Linked DNA regions of Homo sapiens. The protein of the gene in region 1 interacts with the protein of each later gene in a biochemical or structural test. Each region holds a gene or a part of one and is shown on either strand. Other genes may lie near its edges.

The links.
Region 2: of the proteins of PKD1 (region 1) and PIP5K1C, one has a biochemical effect on the other in vitro, tested with the Homo sapiens proteins (one study listed by BioGRID).
Region 3: the proteins of PKD1 (region 1) and NPHP1 are reported together in a solved structure, tested with the Homo sapiens proteins (one study listed by BioGRID and IntAct).

The regions. Positions count from the first base shown.
Region 1 is NC_000016.10:2,104,739-2,111,898, reverse strand, and holds part of PKD1 (polycystin-1 isoform 1 precursor), read left to right. Parts: intron 1-27; coding exon 28-3,647; intron 3,648-3,866; coding exon 3,867-4,016; intron 4,017-4,950; coding exon 4,951-5,094; intron 5,095-5,145; exon of another isoform or gene 5,146-5,221; coding exon 5,222-5,501; intron 5,502-5,594; coding exon 5,595-5,808; intron 5,809-5,874; coding exon 5,875-6,034; intron 6,035-6,424; coding exon 6,425-6,577; intron 6,578-7,160. UniProt on the Homo sapiens protein: Component of a heteromeric calcium-permeable ion channel formed by PKD1 and PKD2 that is activated by interaction between PKD1 and a Wnt family member, such as WNT3A and WNT9B. Both PKD1 and PKD2 are required for channel activity.
Region 2 is NC_000019.10:3,690,147-3,697,510, reverse strand, and holds part of PIP5K1C (phosphatidylinositol 4-phosphate 5-kinase type-1 gamma), read left to right. Parts: intron 1-7,364. UniProt on the Homo sapiens protein: Catalyzes the phosphorylation of phosphatidylinositol 4-phosphate (PtdIns(4)P/PI4P) to form phosphatidylinositol 4,5-bisphosphate (PtdIns(4,5)P2/PIP2), a lipid second messenger that regulates several cellular processes such as signal transduction, vesicle trafficking, actin cytoskeleton dynamics, cell adhesion, and cell motility.
Region 3 is NC_000002.12:110,159,815-110,167,178, reverse strand, and holds part of NPHP1 (nephrocystin-1), read left to right. Parts: intron 1-2,023; coding exon 2,024-2,127; intron 2,128-2,448; coding exon 2,449-2,491; coding exon of another isoform or gene 2,492-2,659; intron 2,660-4,043; coding exon 4,044-4,131; intron 4,132-5,481; coding exon 5,482-5,576; intron 5,577-6,923; coding exon 6,924-7,052; intron 7,053-7,364. UniProt on the Homo sapiens protein: Together with BCAR1 it may play a role in the control of epithelial cell polarity. Involved in the organization of apical junctions in kidney cells together with NPHP4 and RPGRIP1L/NPHP8. Does not seem to be strictly required for ciliogenesis.

The DNA.
Region 1 (7,160 bases):
CTGCCCCACTCGGGCCTGTCCCCACAGGTGAGTACCTCCTGACCGTGCTGGCATCTAATGCCTTCGAGAACCTGACGCAGCAGGTGCCTGTGAGCGTGCGCGCCTCCCTGCCCTCCGTGGCTGTGGGTGTGAGTGACGGCGTCCTGGTGGCCGGCCGGCCCGTCACCTTCTACCCGCACCCGCTGCCCTCGCCTGGGGGTGTTCTTTACACGTGGGACTTCGGGGACGGCTCCCCTGTCCTGACCCAGAGCCAGCCGGCTGCCAACCACACCTATGCCTCGAGGGGCACCTACCACGTGCGCCTGGAGGTCAACAACACGGTGAGCGGTGCGGCGGCCCAGGCGGATGTGCGCGTCTTTGAGGAGCTCCGCGGACTCAGCGTGGACATGAGCCTGGCCGTGGAGCAGGGCGCCCCCGTGGTGGTCAGCGCCGCGGTGCAGACGGGCGACAACATCACGTGGACCTTCGACATGGGGGACGGCACCGTGCTGTCGGGCCCGGAGGCAACAGTGGAGCATGTGTACCTGCGGGCACAGAACTGCACAGTGACCGTGGGTGCGGCCAGCCCCGCCGGCCACCTGGCCCGGAGCCTGCACGTGCTGGTCTTCGTCCTGGAGGTGCTGCGCGTTGAACCCGCCGCCTGCATCCCCACGCAGCCTGACGCGCGGCTCACGGCCTACGTCACCGGGAACCCGGCCCACTACCTCTTCGACTGGACCTTCGGGGATGGCTCCTCCAACACGACCGTGCGGGGGTGCCCGACGGTGACACACAACTTCACGCGGAGCGGCACGTTCCCCCTGGCGCTGGTGCTGTCCAGCCGCGTGAACAGGGCGCATTACTTCACCAGCATCTGCGTGGAGCCAGAGGTGGGCAACGTCACCCTGCAGCCAGAGAGGCAGTTTGTGCAGCTCGGGGACGAGGCCTGGCTGGTGGCATGTGCCTGGCCCCCGTTCCCCTACCGCTACACCTGGGACTTTGGCACCGAGGAAGCCGCCCCCACCCGTGCCAGGGGCCCTGAGGTGACGTTCATCTACCGAGACCCAGGCTCCTATCTTGTGACAGTCACCGCGTCCAACAACATCTCTGCTGCCAATGACTCAGCCCTGGTGGAGGTGCAGGAGCCCGTGCTGGTCACCAGCATCAAGGTCAATGGCTCCCTTGGGCTGGAGCTGCAGCAGCCGTACCTGTTCTCTGCTGTGGGCCGTGGGCGCCCCGCCAGCTACCTGTGGGATCTGGGGGACGGTGGGTGGCTCGAGGGTCCGGAGGTCACCCACGCTTACAACAGCACAGGTGACTTCACCGTTAGGGTGGCCGGCTGGAATGAGGTGAGCCGCAGCGAGGCCTGGCTCAATGTGACGGTGAAGCGGCGCGTGCGGGGGCTCGTCGTCAATGCAAGCCGCACGGTGGTGCCCCTGAATGGGAGCGTGAGCTTCAGCACGTCGCTGGAGGCCGGCAGTGATGTGCGCTATTCCTGGGTGCTCTGTGACCGCTGCACGCCCATCCCTGGGGGTCCTACCATCTCTTACACCTTCCGCTCCGTGGGCACCTTCAATATCATCGTCACGGCTGAGAACGAGGTGGGCTCCGCCCAGGACAGCATCTTCGTCTATGTCCTGCAGCTCATAGAGGGGCTGCAGGTGGTGGGCGGTGGCCGCTACTTCCCCACCAACCACACGGTACAGCTGCAGGCCGTGGTTAGGGATGGCACCAACGTCTCCTACAGCTGGACTGCCTGGAGGGACAGGGGCCCGGCCCTGGCCGGCAGCGGCAAAGGCTTCTCGCTCACCGTGCTCGAGGCCGGCACCTACCATGTGCAGCTGCGGGCCACCAACATGCTGGGCAGCGCCTGGGCCGACTGCACCATGGACTTCGTGGAGCCTGTGGGGTGGCTGATGGTGGCCGCCTCCCCGAACCCAGCTGCCGTCAACACAAGCGTCACCCTCAGTGCCGAGCTGGCTGGTGGCAGTGGTGTCGTATACACTTGGTCCTTGGAGGAGGGGCTGAGCTGGGAGACCTCCGAGCCATTTACCACCCATAGCTTCCCCACACCCGGCCTGCACTTGGTCACCATGACGGCAGGGAACCCGCTGGGCTCAGCCAACGCCACCGTGGAAGTGGATGTGCAGGTGCCTGTGAGTGGCCTCAGCATCAGGGCCAGCGAGCCCGGAGGCAGCTTCGTGGCGGCCGGGTCCTCTGTGCCCTTTTGGGGGCAGCTGGCCACGGGCACCAATGTGAGCTGGTGCTGGGCTGTGCCCGGCGGCAGCAGCAAGCGTGGCCCTCATGTCACCATGGTCTTCCCGGATGCTGGCACCTTCTCCATCCGGCTCAATGCCTCCAACGCAGTCAGCTGGGTCTCAGCCACGTACAACCTCACGGCGGAGGAGCCCATCGTGGGCCTGGTGCTGTGGGCCAGCAGCAAGGTGGTGGCGCCCGGGCAGCTGGTCCATTTTCAGATCCTGCTGGCTGCCGGCTCAGCTGTCACCTTCCGCCTGCAGGTCGGCGGGGCCAACCCCGAGGTGCTCCCCGGGCCCCGTTTCTCCCACAGCTTCCCCCGCGTCGGAGACCACGTGGTGAGCGTGCGGGGCAAAAACCACGTGAGCTGGGCCCAGGCGCAGGTGCGCATCGTGGTGCTGGAGGCCGTGAGTGGGCTGCAGGTGCCCAACTGCTGCGAGCCTGGCATCGCCACGGGCACTGAGAGGAACTTCACAGCCCGCGTGCAGCGCGGCTCTCGGGTCGCCTACGCCTGGTACTTCTCGCTGCAGAAGGTCCAGGGCGACTCGCTGGTCATCCTGTCGGGCCGCGACGTCACCTACACGCCCGTGGCCGCGGGGCTGTTGGAGATCCAGGTGCGCGCCTTCAACGCCCTGGGCAGTGAGAACCGCACGCTGGTGCTGGAGGTTCAGGACGCCGTCCAGTATGTGGCCCTGCAGAGCGGCCCCTGCTTCACCAACCGCTCGGCGCAGTTTGAGGCCGCCACCAGCCCCAGCCCCCGGCGTGTGGCCTACCACTGGGACTTTGGGGATGGGTCGCCAGGGCAGGACACAGATGAGCCCAGGGCCGAGCACTCCTACCTGAGGCCTGGGGACTACCGCGTGCAGGTGAACGCCTCCAACCTGGTGAGCTTCTTCGTGGCGCAGGCCACGGTGACCGTCCAGGTGCTGGCCTGCCGGGAGCCGGAGGTGGACGTGGTCCTGCCCCTGCAGGTGCTGATGCGGCGATCACAGCGCAACTACTTGGAGGCCCACGTTGACCTGCGCGACTGCGTCACCTACCAGACTGAGTACCGCTGGGAGGTGTATCGCACCGCCAGCTGCCAGCGGCCGGGGCGCCCAGCGCGTGTGGCCCTGCCCGGCGTGGACGTGAGCCGGCCTCGGCTGGTGCTGCCGCGGCTGGCGCTGCCTGTGGGGCACTACTGCTTTGTGTTTGTCGTGTCATTTGGGGACACGCCACTGACACAGAGCATCCAGGCCAATGTGACGGTGGCCCCCGAGCGCCTGGTGCCCATCATTGAGGGTGGCTCATACCGCGTGTGGTCAGACACACGGGACCTGGTGCTGGATGGGAGCGAGTCCTACGACCCCAACCTGGAGGACGGCGACCAGACGCCGCTCAGTTTCCACTGGGCCTGTGTGGCTTCGACACAGGTCAGTGCGTGGCAGGGCCGTCCTCCATGCCCCTCACCCGTCCACACCCATGAGCCCAGAGAACACCCAGCTTGCCACCAGGGCTGGCCCGTCCTCAGTGCCTGGTGGGCCCCGTCCCAGCATGGGGAGGGGGTCTCCCGCGCTGTCTCCTGGGCCGGGCTCTGCTTTAAAACTGGATGGGGCTCTCAGGCCACGTCGCCCCTTGTTCTCGGCCTGCAGAGGGAGGCTGGCGGGTGTGCGCTGAACTTTGGGCCCCGCGGGAGCAGCACGGTCACCATTCCACGGGAGCGGCTGGCGGCTGGCGTGGAGTACACCTTCAGCCTGACCGTGTGGAAGGCCGGCCGCAAGGAGGAGGCCACCAACCAGACGGTGGGTGCCGCCCGCCCCTCGGCCACTTGCCTTGGACAGCCCAGCCTCCCTGGTCATCTACTGTTTTCCGTGTTTTAGTGCTGGTGGAGGCCGCACGCTCTCCCCTCTCTGTTTCTGATGCAAATTCTATGTAACACGACAGCCTGCTTCAGCTTTGCTTCCTTCCAAACCTGCCACAGTTCCACGTACAGTCTTCAAGCCACATATGCTCTAGTGGCAAAAGCTACACAGTCCCCTAGCAATACCAACAGTGAGGAAGAGCCCCTTCCCACCCCAGAGGTAGCCACTGTCCCCAGCCCATGTCCCTGTTGCTGGATGTGGTGGGCCGGTTCTCACCCTCACGCTCCCCTCTCTGGACCGGCCAGGAGGCTTGGTGACCCTGAGCCCGTGGTGGCTGCTCCTGCTGCTGTCAGGCGGGGCCTGCTGGTGCCCCAGAGTGGGCGTCTGTTCCCCAGTCCCTGCTTTCCTCAGCTGGCCTGATTGGGGGTCTTCCCAGAGGGGTCGTCTGAGGGGAGGGTGTGGGAGCAGGTTCCATCCCAGCTCAGCCTCCTGACCCAGGCCCTGGCTAAGGGCTGCAGGAGTCTGTGAGTCAGGCCTACGTGGCAGCTGCGGTCCTCACACCCACACATACGTCTCTTCTCACACGCATCCCCCCAGGGGCCCTCAGTGAGCATTGCCTGCCTCCTGCTAGGGTCCAGCTGGGTCCAGTACACCAGAACGCACACTCCAGTGTCCTCTGCCCTGTGTATGCCCTTCCGCCGTCCAAGTTGGAAGGTGGCAAACCGGATGAGTATCCTGGGAGGGAGTGAGCTCACCGGCAGTGGCCAGGCCCCTGGGAAACCTGGAGTTTGGGAGCAGCATCCTCCATGGGTCCCCCAGTCCTTCCAGCAGGCCAAATAGACCTGTGTTGGAGGTAACCCCACTCCCACGCCAGGTGCTGATCCGGAGTGGCCGGGTGCCCATTGTGTCCTTGGAGTGTGTGTCCTGCAAGGCACAGGCCGTGTACGAAGTGAGCCGCAGCTCCTACGTGTACTTGGAGGGCCGCTGCCTCAATTGCAGCAGCGGCTCCAAGCGAGGGGTGAGTGTTGAGCGGGGTGTGGGCGGGCTGGGGATGGGTCCCATGGCCGAGGGGACGGGGCCTGCAGGCAGAAGTGGGGCTGACAGGGCAGAGGGTTGCGCCCCCTCACCACCCCTTCTGCCTGCAGCGGTGGGCTGCACGTACGTTCAGCAACAAGACGCTGGTGCTGGATGAGACCACCACATCCACGGGCAGTGCAGGCATGCGACTGGTGCTGCGGCGGGGCGTGCTGCGGGACGGCGAGGGATACACCTTCACGCTCACGGTGCTGGGCCGCTCTGGCGAGGAGGAGGGCTGCGCCTCCATCCGCCTGTCCCCCAACCGCCCGCCGCTGGGGGGCTCTTGCCGCCTCTTCCCACTGGGCGCTGTGCACGCCCTCACCACCAAGGTGCACTTCGAATGCACGGGTGAGTGCAGGCCTGCGTGGGGGGAGCAGCGGGATCCCCCGACTCTGTGACGTCACGGAGCCCTCCCGTGATGCCGTGGGGACCGTCCCTCAGGCTGGCATGACGCGGAGGATGCTGGCGCCCCGCTGGTGTACGCCCTGCTGCTGCGGCGCTGTCGCCAGGGCCACTGCGAGGAGTTCTGTGTCTACAAGGGCAGCCTCTCCAGCTACGGAGCCGTGCTGCCCCCGGGTTTCAGGCCACACTTCGAGGTGGGCCTGGCCGTGGTGGTGCAGGACCAGCTGGGAGCCGCTGTGGTCGCCCTCAACAGGTGAGCCAGGCCGTGGGAGGGCGCCCCCGAGACTGCCACCTGCTCACCACCCCCCTCTGCTCGTAGGTCTTTGGCCATCACCCTCCCAGAGCCCAACGGCAGCGCAACGGGGCTCACAGTCTGGCTGCACGGGCTCACCGCTAGTGTGCTCCCAGGGCTGCTGCGGCAGGCCGATCCCCAGCACGTCATCGAGTACTCGTTGGCCCTGGTCACCGTGCTGAACGAGGTGAGTGCAGCCTGGGAGGGGACGTCACATCTGCTGCATGCGTGCTTGGGACCAAGACCTGTACCCCTGCCTGGAGCTTTGCAGAGGGCTCATCCCGGGCCCCAGAGATAAATCCCAGTGACCCTGAAGCAGCACCCCGACCTTCCGCTCCCAGCAGCCACACCCACCGGGCCCTCTCCGGCGTCTGCTTTCCACAATGCAGCCCCCGCCCAGGAGGGCCCATGTGCTTACCCTGTTTTGCCCATGAAGAAACAGCTCAGTGTTGTGGGTCAGTGCCCGCATCACACAGCGTCTAGCACGTAACTGCACCCCGGGAGTCGTGGGCATCTGCTGGCCTCCTGCCGGCCTCCTGCGCTGCTGACAGCTTGCTGTGCCCCCTGCCTGCCCCAGTACGAGCGGGCCCTGGACGTGGCGGCAGAGCCCAAGCACGAGCGGCAGCACCGAGCCCAGATACGCAAGAACATCACGGAGACTCTGGTGTCCCTGAGGGTCCACACTGTGGATGACATCCAGCAGATCGCTGCTGCGCTGGCCCAGTGCATGGTAGGATGGCCCCACCTGCTCACCCTGCCCCGCATGCCTGCCAGGGCACTGGGTTCAGCCCCCCAGGGCAGACGGGCAGCTTGGCCGAGGAGCTGAGCCTCCAGCCTGGGCTCCTTCCTGCCATGGCGTTCCTCGGTCTCTGACCTGCTTCAGTAGCCTCAGCCGTTCTGTCCTGTGTGAACGCAGGGTGCCTCTCGGGGGACCCAGGGTGTAAAGAGGGGCCCAGATGTGGGGAGGGACTAAGAAGATGCTGCTCTGTGCCCTCCACTCTCCCCTCCCCTCCCCTCCCCCTTCCCTCCCCTAGCCCCTCCCCTCCTCCCCTCCCCTAGCCCTTCCCCTCCTCCCCTCCCCTAGCCCTTTCCCTTCTTCCCCCCCAGCCCTTCCCCTCCTCCCCTCCCCTTTTTCTCCACTCCCCTCTCCTCTCTCCCCTCCTCCTCCGCTCTCATGTGAAGAGGTGCCTTGTGTGGTCGGTGGGCTGCATCACGTGGTCCCCAGGTGGAGGCCCTGGGTCATGCAGAGCCACAGAAAATGCTTAGTGAGGAGGCTGTGGGGGTCCAGTCAAGTGGGCTCTCCAGCTGCAGGG
Region 2 (7,364 bases), on another chromosome or scaffold:
TCCTCCCTGGTCCAGCTCGGTCCTCCCCGGTCCAGCTCGGTCCTCCTCGGTCCAGCTCGGTCCTCCTCCGTACAGCTCGGTCCTCCTCCGTCTGGCTGAGTACTCCCCGGTCCAGCTCAGTCCTCCTCCGTCTGGCTCAGTCCTCCTCTGTCTGGCTCGGTCCTCCCCGGTCCAGCTCGGTCCTCCTCCGTCCGGCCCAGTCCTCCTCCATCCGGCTCGGTCCTCTATCCGGCTTGGTCCTCCTCCATCTGGCTCGGTCCTCCCGGGTCCAGCTCGGTCCTCCCCGGTCCAGCTTAGTCCTCCTCCATCCGGCTCAGTCCTCCCCAGTCCAGCTTGGTCCTCCTCTGTCCGGCTCGGTTCTCCTTCGTCCGGCTCAGTCCTCCTTCGTCTGGCTCGGTCCTCCTTGGTCCTCCTCGGTCCAGCTCGGTCCTCCTTGGTCCAGCTCGGTCCTCCCCGGTCCAGCTCAGTCCTCCTTTGTCCAGCTCGGTCCTCCTCGGTCCAGCTCGATCCTCCTCCGTCCAGCTCAGTCCTCCTCGGTCCAGCTCAGTCCTCCTTTGCCCCCTGAGCCAGGCCTGGCGCCCCTGCTCTTCCTCTGCTCCCTGTCCCACATTCCAGGAGGACCCCATTAAAAACCAGCGGCCCGAGTCCCGACCCTCCTCTGCTCGCAGCCCTCCATGGCTCCCACCTCCCTTGGGGTCAAAGACATAGTCCTCTTTGAAGCCCATCAGGCCCTGCACAGCCTGCCCCGGGCCCTCCCTGCCCTCCCTGCCCTCCCCTCCGCACTCTGCCCTCCCTGCCCTCCCGTCTGCACTCTGCTGTAGGCCCATGGGCCCCTTGCTGTTCCTCCAGCATGCAGGGCATGGTCCTGCCCCGGGGCCTTTGCACGGCTGCCCCCCACCCCCACCCCGGAATGCCCCTCCTCCCATCTGTGTCCTTTGCTCCCTTAGCGCTTTCCAGGTTTTGTGGGAGCATCTCCTCTCCGTGAGGCCTCCCTGCCCTGCTGTCACCACACAGCGGTCTCCCCTTCTCCGTCCCCTGCCCTCCCGGTTCCTCTTCCCTGATTGTGCCACCATAGCGTTTGTCACCACCTGAAACATATGGCTCTGCTGACGTGTTTTCTGACCATCTCCTCCTGAGCGAGAGCTCCACGAGGGCCAAGACCGTCTGTGCCACTCCTGCGGCATCCCCTGCGCCCGGAAGAGCTCAGCACAGTGCAGATCCTGGTGAACATCAGGTGCATGAGGCCAGCAGTGCCAGGGAGGAAGGGTAAGGTAGAATGGGGTGGCTGGGAAGGCCTTGCCAAGAAGGTGGCATCCGAGGGAGACCTGTGGGCATTGGGCAGGAAGAGGGCATGGCCCCAGCAGAGGCCCCGCCTGCCTGGAGCACAGTGTAGTGTGGTCACAGGGCGGCCGGGCAGGGAGTCAGCACCGCCACCAGGGCCTCCCTGTAGCTGTGGTGGTCTGTGTAAAAAGGTCAGGGAGGCCGGGCACGGTGGCTCACACCTGTAATCCCAGCATTTTGGGAGGCTGAAGCAGGAGGATCACTTGATCTCAGGAGTTTGAGACCAGCCTGGAGCAACATAGCAAGACCCCTGTCTCTACTAAAAAAAAATTAAAAGAAGTAGCTAGACGTAATGGTATGTACCTGTAGTTCCAGCTACTCAGGAGGCTGAGGCAGGAGGATCACCTGAGCCTGGGAGGCTGAGGCTGCACTGAGCTGTGATCGTGCCACTGCATGCCTGGGTGACAGCAGAATCGTATCTCAAAAAAAAAAAAAAAAAAGGGTCAGTGGGATTGTGGTGTCTCTTGTTGCAAGTCAGCAGGGCCCAGGCGGAGGCTGAGGACACTGGGGACGGAAAGTTCCCCATTCTCTCCCGCCCTGGCCGCCTCCCGGGATGCAGGTCAGGCACTGTGACCACCACAGCCTGGGTGTCCCAGTGGAGAGGCCTCGGGGGCCGGCCCTCCTGGGTTCACACCCAGCGCCATTGCATGCCAGCCGGGGATGTGCAGCCTCGGTGTACCTGTCTGTAAAGTGGGCGTGATGGCTGCCTTTCTCCTGGGCTGCATGGAGAATCATGGGGTAAAGCCCTTAGAAGGCACGGGACAGGCAGCCGGCCCCGTGAGAAAGCTGGGTGCCCCCTCCGTCCCAGGTTGCTGTTGGAGGAGAGGGAGTCCCCTTCGTGTGCTGCTTCCGGGGCCCAGGTGCCAAGCGAGCTCACCTGGGCGCTGGGGTCCGCCATGGGAGTCGGCTCGTGAAAGTGTGAGTTCCACTCCTGGGCTCCAGACCTTTGTTGAGCACCTCGTGTGGGCCAGGTGGGGCTCAGGGTGCCCAGTCTTCTGGTGCTAACGGGACTGCCTCGCTGACCCCTTGGAGCCCTCAGGTTGCTGGGCGTCAGGCTGCAGATGGGAACAAGTGGCCACGTGAGACCCCACCCGAATCTGTCCATGCCGCTTCTTGTCAACAAAGTTTTATTGGCAACGGCCACACCATTTGTTCCGTTGCCGGCCTTGGTGGCCCCCACGCTGCAGCGGCAGAGCTGGGAGCTGAGTGGCCATGCTTGGGGCTACGTGTCCCACGAAGCCGAAAACACTTGCTGCCCGGTCCTTTACGGAAGATGTTTGCCCAGCCCAGAGCCGGGCTGCGTTGGGCGGTGATGAGTGTGGTGAGGGCACCTGGGAGGTCAAGTGGCCAGGCCTGCGGCAGCTGAGGACTCGGAGGGAGGTGACTGTCCCCACGAGCTGAATAAGGGTGGGCTGTGGCTCAGGCGATGTAGGCAGCGGAATAGTCGCGCCGAGGCCGTGGGGTGGGAACTTGCTGCACCCACTTGAGCCGCAGAAGTGAAGTCAACGTGGTGGGAGAGGGTCGCGTGGGGTCGGACCTGAGGACAGCGGGTGGCACGGGCATCTGAGTGGGGCGGCGAGCCCGATTCACAGCGCCTGGTGGGGGATGGTCCGTGGGCAGTGCTCTGTGGGGTTGGGGCAGGTGTCCAGGTGAGTGCCACCGGTGCCTGGAGGCAGACGAGGGGCCTGGAAGGATTTTGGCCTGGGCCCTGGAGCTGGTGGCTGGGGTGGCGAGGACTGAGGACAGAGCAGGACTGGGAGCCCAGGCACTGTGGCAGGTGTGTGCCGATGTGGGGTGAGCAGGCAGTGGGGACCCCCAAAGCAGGTGGAGGCTCCGGGAGCCTGGGCAGGGTGGTCCCAGGGCCTGGTGTGGGCTGAGCCTGCCTTGGCCGCTTAGACCCGTGTGCCTCTGAGCAAGTGACTTCCCTTTGTTTTAAATTTTTTTTTTTTTTTTTTTTTGAGATGGAGTCTCGCTGTCTCGCCCGGGCTGGAGTGCAGTGGCGCGTTCTCGGCTCACTGCAAGCTCCACCTCCCGGGTTCACGCCATTCTCCTGCCTCAGCCTCCTGAGTAGCTGGGACTACAGGCGTCCGCCACTACGCCCGGCTAATGTTTTGTATTTTTAGTAGAGACAGGGTTTCACCGTGTTAGCCAGGAGGGTGTTGATCTCCTGACCTGGTGATCCGCCCGCCTCAGCCTCCCAAAGTGCTGGGATTACAGGTGTGAGCCACCGCGCCCAGCCTCTTTTAAATTTTTAAAACTTTTTTGTAGAGGTGAGGTCTCACTATGTTGTCCAGGGTGCGAGGGTCTCGAACCCTTGGTCCCAAGCAGCCCTCCTGCCTCCACCTCCCAAAGTGCTGGGGTTACAGGCATGCGCCCCCATGGTGGCCCCTTCTTTCCCTTTTGGAACAAGAGCTGCGGGTGTCCTGAGTGCCTGGCAGGACAGGGATGGGTGAGGCCCTAGCCCCTGGGAAGCTGCACGACCTGGGTCTTTGTTTACAGATGGGGAAACCGAGGCTCCAGGAGGGCTGGAGAGTCCACACAGGGTGGGGCTGTGAACGAGGAGCGGGGCCCAGGCCTCCCTGCCGCCTGCCGCCTGCCGCCTGGCCCCGGCAGCATGTCCCTTCACGCAGGACCAGGCCGGTCAAGACCCTGCAAGGATTTGCCAGCAGGCGCCAGCTGGACGGGGCCCGTGGTGGTGCCAGTACTCATGGGGATTACAGCCTGAGGGGATTAGCTCGGAGCCCCTGCACCTGCCTCCCCGCCACCCTGAGAGGCCAGCTTGGGAGGGGCTGGAGTCGAGCATGAGGGCCCCCAGGTGCCTGAGCTGGCATGGGGGTGCGAGGGGACCCGGCCTCTGGCTGAGTGAAGAGAGGACCCCAGCACCCTGCCCGGCCGCTCTCCTCCACTGAAATGCCTCATGCCTCCACTTTGCAGGCAGGGCTGCTGCTGAAGGTTTCCGGGAGTGGGGTGTGGTTCGGGCATCGTCTACGTGTGCTTTCCTGCGTGTGCTGTGGCCGGGTGCTGGGAGCCTGGGGGAACGAGAGGGCCAGGCCCCCTAAGGAACTCTGGGAGTGGGGCCAGGACATACAGACAGCAAAGAAAAGCAAAACACGCAACGCAGTGGACAAGTGCCACGGAGAAGAGCCGAGCAGAGGAGGGGAGAGAGTGGCGGCGGAGGTGCCCTCAAGGCTGGGGACTCGGGGGCCACACTTGAACAGAGATCCAGGGGAAGTGAGGGGGTTGTGGAAGTGTGGAGGGAGCTGTCTGGCAGAGGCACTGTGCAAAGGCTCTGGGGCAGGACCACGCCTGGTGTTTTAGAGGAACAGTGAGGAGGGGAGGGCAGGGAGGGGACGGGGCAGGGTGTGCAGGGCCTTGTGGGCTGCAGGGAGGACTTGGGCTTTGACCCCAAGGGAGGTGGGAGCCATGGAGGGCTGCGGGCAGAGGAGGGATGGGCGAGACTCAGGAGCTCACAGGCACCCCCTGGTGGCTGCTGTGGGGAGGACAGATGGGGTGAGGGCGGGACGTGGGCTAGGGGAACCAGGGCAGAGGGGACTGCACTGGCCCAGGTGGGCGAAGCTGGGGCTGGGCCAGGTGGGGACCATGAGCAGTGCGCCATCTGGGATGGATTTTGGAAGCAGAGCCAGCAGGACCTTTTGAAGGTTGAGTGTGGGGCTGAGGGGGGATTGAGTTTGAAATCAAGATTTTAGCCTGAGCCCTGGAAGGACAGAGCTGCCCTCAGCCAAGATGGATGCAGGAAGGGCAGCATGGGGGCCGCCGGGGCCCAGCATGGCCGAGCTGCGAGGGAGGCCCCAGGAGCCCCTGTAGGGAGCGTTGGGGGCCGTGGTGGGAGCCGGCAGTGGGACTGGGTGGGGCCGTCGGGACCCTGGTGGTGGCTGTGCTCAGTGGACGGTGTCTCTGTTCCATTGTGCTGTTGGCAGGAGGACAGCTGAGATGATTGGGTTCGGTTGCCCAGCCGCTCCGTGCCTCAGTTTCCTCATTTGGAAAGCAATGTCCCTTGAGGATTAGATGAGTCAATGCACACAAAAGGCTCAGAGCCGGCCCTGCCCATGGTGGGCGCCCAGGGAGTGGGGACAGGGACGTGAGCGGGCAGCTCCCACTGTGCACCCTTCCCGTGCGGTGCTTGGACTGGCCACGGTGCATGCGCTGACATGGGCGGGGCTGCTGGGGCAGGGAAAAGAGCCTGGGGTGGGAGCAGCTGCCTCGGGGCCTGTGCCTGTGGGCGCGTATGAGCCAGCCTGGCTTGGCGTCTGCTGCTAAAACAAACATCCCCACTCTCCCGGCCATCCCAGAGGCTCATTTCTCGCTTGTGTTGGGGGCTTTGGTGGTTTTGCTCCCCGATCTCTCAGATCCCAGGTTGACGGAGGTGCTGTCACCCCCAGTGCAGTAAAGGCTCTATGCTTCTGTAACCCAGAAAGGTGGTACGTGTATTCAGATGCACTCTGATTGGTTTAAATCAGGCCTGGTGAGGCCAAGAGAGCAGGAGGTGACTGCTATTGAAAAGCTCTTGTGTTACAGTTCCCGAGGCTTTGGTTGGAAGGGACGGGCCAGGCGGGGTAGATGGGCTGGGTGTGCCTAGGATGGGCTGGTTTGACTCCCGACTGTTTGCGGCTCTTGGCTGTTGGGGTGGTCCCTGTTCTGGGAGCTGGCCCTGGGGTGATTCAGGGCAGGGAACCTGGGCGTGGCGCGTGAGAGTTTGATCAGGTGCGTGGGCTCGCGGTTGGTTGCTCTGCACGTCACAGTGTGCTCGCAGGCGGGCCGTTTGCAACGTTTAGGAATCCGCTTACCCTGGAAGGGGCCGTCATCCCCAGATTAGCGAGGCCCCCAAGATGTCGTAAAATCCAGAAAACAAAACGCAGCATCAGCACTGTACCAGACCGGGCGCTCCGTGTTCCGGCAGCGGAGGACGCGTCCATCTCTCCCATCCTCAGCAGCCATATGGGTGCAAGGCGACTTCTTCCCTCACTGCGTCATTGCAGCGTATATTCGTCTTCTTGTGACTCAGAGAAAAAGTCCTTGTGGCTCTTCGCAGCATTTCCTCTTTGTTTTCTTGGAACTGCGTTTCCACAAGGGGAGCAGAGACCACTAGAGGCGAAGGGACTCGCCACACAGGAGCTCCCTCCCACTCCTCCCGACGGTCACCTGTGTTTCTATCAAGAGCTGGAAAATGGAGTGTCCCCACCAGGGAGACGGGGTCACCACCGAGGCTGGCTCTGAGCTGCCTCAGCTCCTGCAAGCTCCGTGGCCCCGACCTCCACCCTCCCCGGCCCATTTTCCTTGCACAGTTCCTTCTTGTAAGCACACACGTCAGGTTGAACTCTGACCTCATTTTCTGGGACCTGTATGATTGTGTCTTTCCCAGTCTACAGTTATCTGTCACCATTTTGTTGATTCGTAGGAGCTCTTTATTTGTTATGGCAGCTACTCATTTATTGGTGACACAAGTGCAGGTACTTCTTTGCCCATCTTCTCCTACGATGATTGTTAACGTCTGGCAGGTATTTTGGGGTTTATGTGGTCAAACTTATCACTCTTTCCTTTTCTGGTTTCCTAGTTTGGTGTCATGAATGGGAAAGTCTTCCTGTTCTGAGGTTATGATTAAATTCTGCTAAGACTTTTATAACTTAGCTTCTTTTTTGTTCACATTTCAATTCTTTTTTTTTTTTTTTAAGACAGGGTCTCGCTGTATCACCCAGGCTAGAGTTCAGTGACACGATTGTAGCTCACCGCAGCCTCGACCTCCTGGGTTCAAACCAGCCTCCCAACTAGCTGGGACTGCAGGTGTGCGCCACCATGCATAGCTAATTTTTCATCTTTTATGGAGACAGGGTCTTCCCATGTTGCCTGGGCTGGTCTCGAGCTCCTGGCCTCAAGTGATCCTCTTGCCTTGGCTTCTCGATGTGCTGGGGTTACAGGTGTGAGCCAGTGCGCCCAGCCTATTTCTGGACTTTTTATTCTGCTCCACTCCTCTGCCTTTACCTTCATGCTACAGCCATGTCTCGTCT
Region 3 (7,364 bases), on another chromosome or scaffold:
CAAGGGTTTCAGGAGCTCTGTGCCAGGAATCAGTGACAAAGAACAAATACATGTTTTTCATTACACACATTTTTAAAAAGTAAAAAGAAACAGGTAGAATTATTTTTAATAATATATTTTATATTATCCAGTATATCAAAAATACTATTTTGACATATCAATATTTAAAAATATTGAGTTGTTTTGCTTTTTTAACATTAAGTTCAAAATCCAATGTGTGTTTTACATTTACAGCACTTCTCAGTTTGGATTAATTTCAAGAGCTCACTAGCTACATGTGGCCAAAGGGCTATTGTATTACATAGGGCAGGTCTAGATCATCTTTTTCAATGGCAGCAAGTCTTCTAATCTCATTTAGATGGTCATTGAAGTTGTTTCCAACCTATAATCACTATCGATTATGTTGCAAAGAACATGGGATTAGCATCCACTGTCAGTTGCAAAAAGATCCCCCCAAAAAGTAGCTTAAATAAGGTAGAAGCCTATTTCTCTCAAGCATAAAAGTGTGGAGAAAAGCAATCAATAATTGGTTAAGATCCTATCCAGTATTTTATCCTGTTTCTGATGTGAGGCTGCTCTGCCTAGAGTTATCTCTTTAGTTTTAAGTCAGCTGCTGGATCTTTTAAGGATTCCAAGGAGCAAAAGGGGAAAGAATTCAAAAGGCATAAGCTGCTGCCTTTTTAAGAAGGTTTCTTGGAAGTTACACAAAAAAACTTTCAACTGTTGCTCATTGACCAGCATTTAGTTCTCTGGCAACAGTTAGCTGCAAGGAAGTCTTGGGAAATGTAGTCTTTTAACTGGATCATTGTTAAATCAGGGATTTTGTTTGAAAAAGGAGGTGGGGAATAGGTGGTAGCCAGCCAGCAACTTGTGTTGTCATCAAGCCTGCGTGCATCTTTGCACACTTGCCCGATTATCCCCTTAGATAAATTCCTAGATGTTCATCACTGGTTCAAAGGGTTTATAGCTTTATATTTTGATTTATTTTTCCAATTTGCCTTTTAGAAAAGTTATGCCAATTTGTACTCCCACCTCTAACAATCAGTGAGTGCTGTTTCCTCACACAATTGCCAGTGATGGCTGTTAGCAATCTTTAAAATTTTTGCCAATATGACCAGCAAAAAAAGTGTCATTAGTGGTTTAATGTGCATTTACTGTACTCCTAATGAGGTTAAGCATCATCTCATATGCTTTATGACCATTTGTATATCTTCTTTGCGAATGGCACTTTCGGTTTTCTTTATTGATACATAATATTTTATGTATTTGTGTGAGTGCTTTTTACTTGTATGGATTGTGTAATAATCAAGTCAGGGTATTTGAGATTTCCATCACCTTGAGTGCTTATCATTTTTATGTGTTGGTACCTTTTCAGTTCTTTTGGATATTTTTTTCTAAGGGATTTAAAAAACTCTTTCATTGATTTCTAAGAGCTTTTATAATATTTTAATAATCAGGATATTAATCCTTAGATATTTGTGTGAGCTATTTTCTTTTTTTCCCCTCAGGATATGCTTAAGTTATGTGTTAGATATTTTCTTTGTTGACTTTAGGTCATGTTTATTTATTATGTAGCTAAATCTGTCAGTGTTTCCACTTATGATTTTTGATTTTGTATCATGATTGGAAAGGGCTTCCCCATCTCTAGATTATTTTCTTCTAATGCTTTTATGTTTCTTTTATTTTTATCTTTACGTCTTTTCTTTTTTATTTAAGTAAATTCCATCTGGAATTTATTTTGATTAAACTTGCTGTCTATCTCAGTTCTTATTTTTTCAAATAGCAAAGTTATTAACCATGTGTTGAAAATTTATTTCCCACTGAGTTTTATATGCTCATCATATATACTAAATTCCCATCTATGCTCAAGATTTTCTGAAAGTACTGATGCTTTTGTTTTTTTGTTTTTAAACAGAAAAGCTTGTTTTTGTTTTTACTGGAGGGTTAGGTGGCAGTACTGGTATTTTTATTGGTTGTTTTTTGCATTAGTTAAAAAGCACTTCACATTTCAATGGTTTTTTAGCCTTATAGTGAAGAAGAAGAAGGCCAAGAGTCAAGTGAAGAGGGCAGTGAAGAAGATGTAGAGGCGGTGGATGAAACAGCAGATGGAGCAGAAGTTAAGCAAAGGTACAAAAGTGGGAAAGGATATCAAAGTAGGTTTAGGAAACATTTTATTTGTTTATTTTTATTATTATAACTAATTCAATACTTTCTTGAAATGGAGACAACTTGTACCTGGAGAGCTTTTCATACTATTGTCTGCTTAAAGATCATTACTGTTTTAGTTTTGTAATTATTTTTAATACATTTAGCTCTACCTCGTTTTCATCTGGAAACTGTTAGATTTTCAAAACTTACTGATGATTATCAACTGTGATTAAAGAAGTTCCCTAATTGAGTGAATAGGCATAACCTGACCTGACTCACTTTGCTATTTTGTCTCCCCAGAACTGATCCCCACTGGAGTGCTGTTCAGAAAGCGATTTCAGAGGCGGGCATCTTCTGTCTTGTTAATCATGTCTCGTTTTGCTACCTAATAGTTCTGATGCGAAATAGGATGGAGACTGTGGAAGACACCAATGGATCTGAAACAGGGTTCAGGGCATGGAATGTACAGAGCAGAGGACGTATATTTCTGGTTTCTAAGCCTGTGCTCCAAGTAACATTTCTCATTAGTTTTTTTTTTTTTTTGTACAAAAAGAATAGATAATTCATGGTGTCACTTGAGGACTTGGAAACATTCTCATTGATCCTGCTTTCCTATCATTTGAGTGGAAACAGATGTTAAATTTTATTTACTATTCGAAAAATCCTGAAAGCCTTTAATAAAAAGTAAGAAATTGGCCAGGCATGGTGATTCACACTGGTAATCCCAACATTTTGGGAAGCTGAAGCAGGAGGATCACTTGAGGCCAGGAATTCAAGACCAGCTTGAGCAACATAGTGAGACCCTATCCTACAAAAAATAAGAAAAATTAGCCAGGTGTGGTGGCTCATGCCTGTAGTCCCAGCTACTCGGGAGGCTGAGGTGGGAGGATTGCATGAGTTTGGGAAGTCAAGGCTGTAGTGAGCTGTGATTGTGCCACTGCACTCCAGAGCATGAGTGACAGGGCAAGACCCTGTCTTAAAAAAAAAAAAGTAATTAATTACATTTTTTTAAAGGAGAAATGATCCATAATTCTGTCATTAAAAAAAAATTACAGGCCGGGCACAGTGGCTCATGGGCACAGTGGCTCACACCTGTAATCCCAGCACTTTGGGAGGCCAAGGCGGGTGGATCACCTGGGGTCAAGAGTTCAAGACCAGCCTAGTCAACACAGCGAAACCTCACCTCGACTAAAAATAGAAAAATTAGCTGGGCGTGGTAGCGCATGTCTGTAGTCCCAGCTCCTGGGGAGGCTGAGGCAGGAGAATTGCTTGAACCTGGGAGGCGGAGGTTGCAGTGAGCCGAGAATACTCCACTGTACTCCAGCCTGGGCGACAGAGTGAGACTCCGTCTCAAAAAACAAAAAAATAATTACATAGCCAAATGAAAATTCTCTTCCTCAAACTCATAAGTAATCACCATTAACAATTTAGTACGTGTCCTTCCTGACCTTTTTCGTTATTTATTACTTATAAGTACATCCTTGTATGTGTGAGGGTGTGTGTCTATGAGTAGTGTGTATGTGTATACAAAAAAAATCCATTAATTCTTCAGTGCATGTGATTTGCCAATAGACATTAACTTACCTGTGAAATGGAAGCGCAGGGTGGAGCAGGACAGGAGCAGGGACATTTTGATAAGGGTATACTTGAAGCAGCTGCTCCGGAACACACAGCTCTGCACGCTGGGCACTGTATGGGGCTTAGGTCCTTAGGAGAGGCCAGGGTGCTGTGATGGCATCCTCTCAGGAATTTGGGGCCAAATCGTATTATTCTTCCACTAAAGTCTGTATGTTTATATTTTTCTTTTTTGGGTTATAGTTACTCTAGTGATAAAGTATTATAGAGATGCAGAAACATGACTGAAAACAAATCCATTTTGATGTTACTGTCTTCAGCAGATAAACACTGTTGATGTGTTAACTACGATGGGAGCTATTCCTGCAGGGTTCAGGCCTTCCACGCTCTCACAGCTTCTGGAGGAAGGTAATGCGTGCCTATCAGCCACTGCACTCTTTCAGCAAAGCAGTCAAGATCCACGTCTAATTTTTCTGTCACAGGCAAAACACATTGTTGAAGAAGATGTTGAATCTCACATCTCTTTGGTGCTCATCTTTTCCTCATCCTTCCTATGACAGTGAGGAAAGATCCCTGATCCTATCAGAGGCCAGCCTGTTTACCAGTGCTCCGGGTTCCAGCCCCTTTCTTTTTTTCAAAAATGTGACTCCTTTAATTTTCAGCCCTTTCCTGTGTCTTTAGCTGGCCCACCTTCCCCACACTGGTTCATTCCCTCATCTGTGCTATCAGCACACCTAATTCTCCCCACCTTAAAGGATCAGCCCCTTGAATCCTATCCCATTCTAGCCAAAACCTCCTTTTCTCTGATCTTCTTCCAAGCAAGACTTTTCCAAAGAATTATCTCCATTTGGAATTTTCATTTTCCTTACTCATTCTTGGCTTTCCCTGTATTTGGCAACTTTTGTCTATAAGCTCATTTTAAAGAGGATTCATGCTGGGGGACAAGGGGTGTCCTGTATACCCTGAGTTGTTGAGTTGTCATGGAAGGGCTGCTTTGAGGATGCCTTTGCTGGGAAGGTTCTTCCCAGTACTCCCTAAATTCCCATCTTTTCATCCTTCAGGTCTCGCGGTAAATTCTGCCTTCCCAGAGATGCCTTCCTTGAGTAATGTGGGTTTCCCTTACTCCCATTCATGTGAACACCCTTTATAGCTCTATGTCCCCTAATAATTATTTTATTTATTTGCTTGTCTACTTATTTTCTAAGAAAATTTTCCTCCCATTCAACTGTAAACTATGGAGGGCAGGGGACATATCTCTGATTTATCTTTGTATTTCTAGAACCTGGTGTAGCATCTGGCAAGAGTAGAAGCTCAAAAATTATTTCTCGAATGGATAAATGATGTTATTAAAAGTATTATTCATGACTAAAGCATGGAGGAAGAGCATAAAATGCTTTTGTGTTAAGAAGTAAAACTAACGACTTTGTTTTTTCTGAAGTCTCCAAAAAGTGCTCATAGATTTCTGCATTTTACAAAAATATTTGAATGAATCCTTGTCATCATGGGGCATATTATTGGCCTAAAAGTCTTTCTTAAAGGTGCTTTAAGATGATCTTTTATGTGTTTGTATCTGTAAGTTTTGTACTGCTGTTTTTATCCATAAATCTATATTGGCGCTTCTATTTTGGAAAGCAAGTTCTTAGTAAGCAGCGTGGCATTTTGGAAGTGCCTGTACTCTAGTTCATAGCATAACATTATGGATTTTTGATTTGGAGTTTCTTTCTTTGTAAGAAAATGAAGAAAAAATGATTTTTTCAGGGAATCAATTTCGAGCAAATTACTTCTTACAACCAGAGCTCATGCCTTCACAACTGGCCTTCAGAGATCTGATGTGGGATGCTACAGAAGGCACTGTAAGTATAGTTACTATCAGTAAAAGTGTAACTCTTCCAGATTTTGTCATAGTTGCAATTAGACAAACAACATGTTAATTGACTAATGAATTATAAAAAACAAAAAAATTGTTTATGATAATTTTGAAAATAGCGATATTTTTATAACTAAGGCAGAATTTGGACTTGCTACCTTGACTTTATCTTGTTTCTCTTCTCCATTGCACTCTTCTCTCATTGTTAGAAAGGAAATAATACTAGGTTTCTATCTTAATCATTCTTTGCCTCAATTTCTTCATCTGTAAAGATGGAGTAATAGTAATGCTTCCAACATAAAGTTATTTTGATAATTATGTGTGTGAAGGGTTTTGAATAATGCCTGGCATATGAAAAGAACTCAATAGATGTTAGCCATTATTATCATTTATAGTAGTAGTAGCAGTAGTAGTAGTATTTTTGAGACAGGGTCTCCCTCTGTCACCCAGGCTAGAGGGCAGTGGTGTGATCATGGCTCACTGTAACCTCAAATTCCTGGGCTCAAGCGACCCTCCCACTTCAGCTTCCTGAGTAGCTGGGGCCACAGGCCTACACCACCATGCCCAGGTAATTTTTGTATTTTTTGTAAAGATGGGGTTTTGCCACGTTGCCAGGCTGGTCTCAAACTCCTGAGCTCAAGCAATCTGCCCTCCTATCCCTCCCAAAGTGCTAGGATTACAAGTGTGAGCCACCAGTCCCAGTCTAATATAAGTTATTTAAATGAAAAGGCTTATGACCGTAAAGCAGAATGTAAAGTTTAATGAATTGAAGCTGTTCTTAAAAAATAAAAAATCAGAATGCCAATTTATTTACTCACAATCTGAATTATACCTATGAAGCAGATCTGAATAAATATATCAGATAGTGCATTCTCTCTGTTAAAACACCTATTAAGAAACTAAGGAACTATGCAGATAATTGCTTGGAATAAAAAATAGTGGGGATAATCTTAATGCCAGGTGGCATTGGTTTTATGCTGCGTTAGCCTTCTGCACTTACCCACATTCTGTAGGAGTGAACCGGGACTGGAATACAGTGATTCTATAGTCATAGATCATATACATTTTGCCTGCCAATATTTATTGTTCCTTTCATCACAGCTTTTAAGTATTTAAGAAAAATGCAATATTTCAAATGTAACTCTATGAAAAATTTACCTAAAATGACTGATTTAATTTTCAATGAACAGAGTATTGAAACTTTTATTGTATATGTGTAAATTTTTTCTTTTTTAAAAATTCTGTATACATTTTCATAAGCCGAATTCACAAAAGACAGATTTGTGTTAGAAATCATAAAAATAAACTTTTTTATAACTAATTTTTCTTTCAGATTAGGTCGAGACCAAGTCGTATTTCATTGATTCTGACATTATGGAGCTGTAAAATGATTCCTCTTCCAGGAATGAGCATACAGGTTCTCAGCAGACATGTACGCCTCTGTCTATTTGATGGTAATAAGGTAAGGTTACTGAGAAGTAAATCAATTCATACTAGGATTATGGAGAAACATTCCCTTAGATTCTTTTCCATTCAACTCCTCCCCAATTCCCAAGAGAGTATTTTTTACCTAGTACCAAAGAAAAATTTGAATGACTCTTTGAAAAATTCATTTTTTAAATGAGATACAGGTTAAACAGTACTTAGATGGAAATTTATAGTTTTAATTGTGTATATTAAAAAAAAGATAAAAGATTTAAAGTCAGTGATCTAAGCTAGCAAATCAAGAGGCTAGAAAAAGAAGAGTGAGTTAAACCTGAAGAAAGTAGAAAGT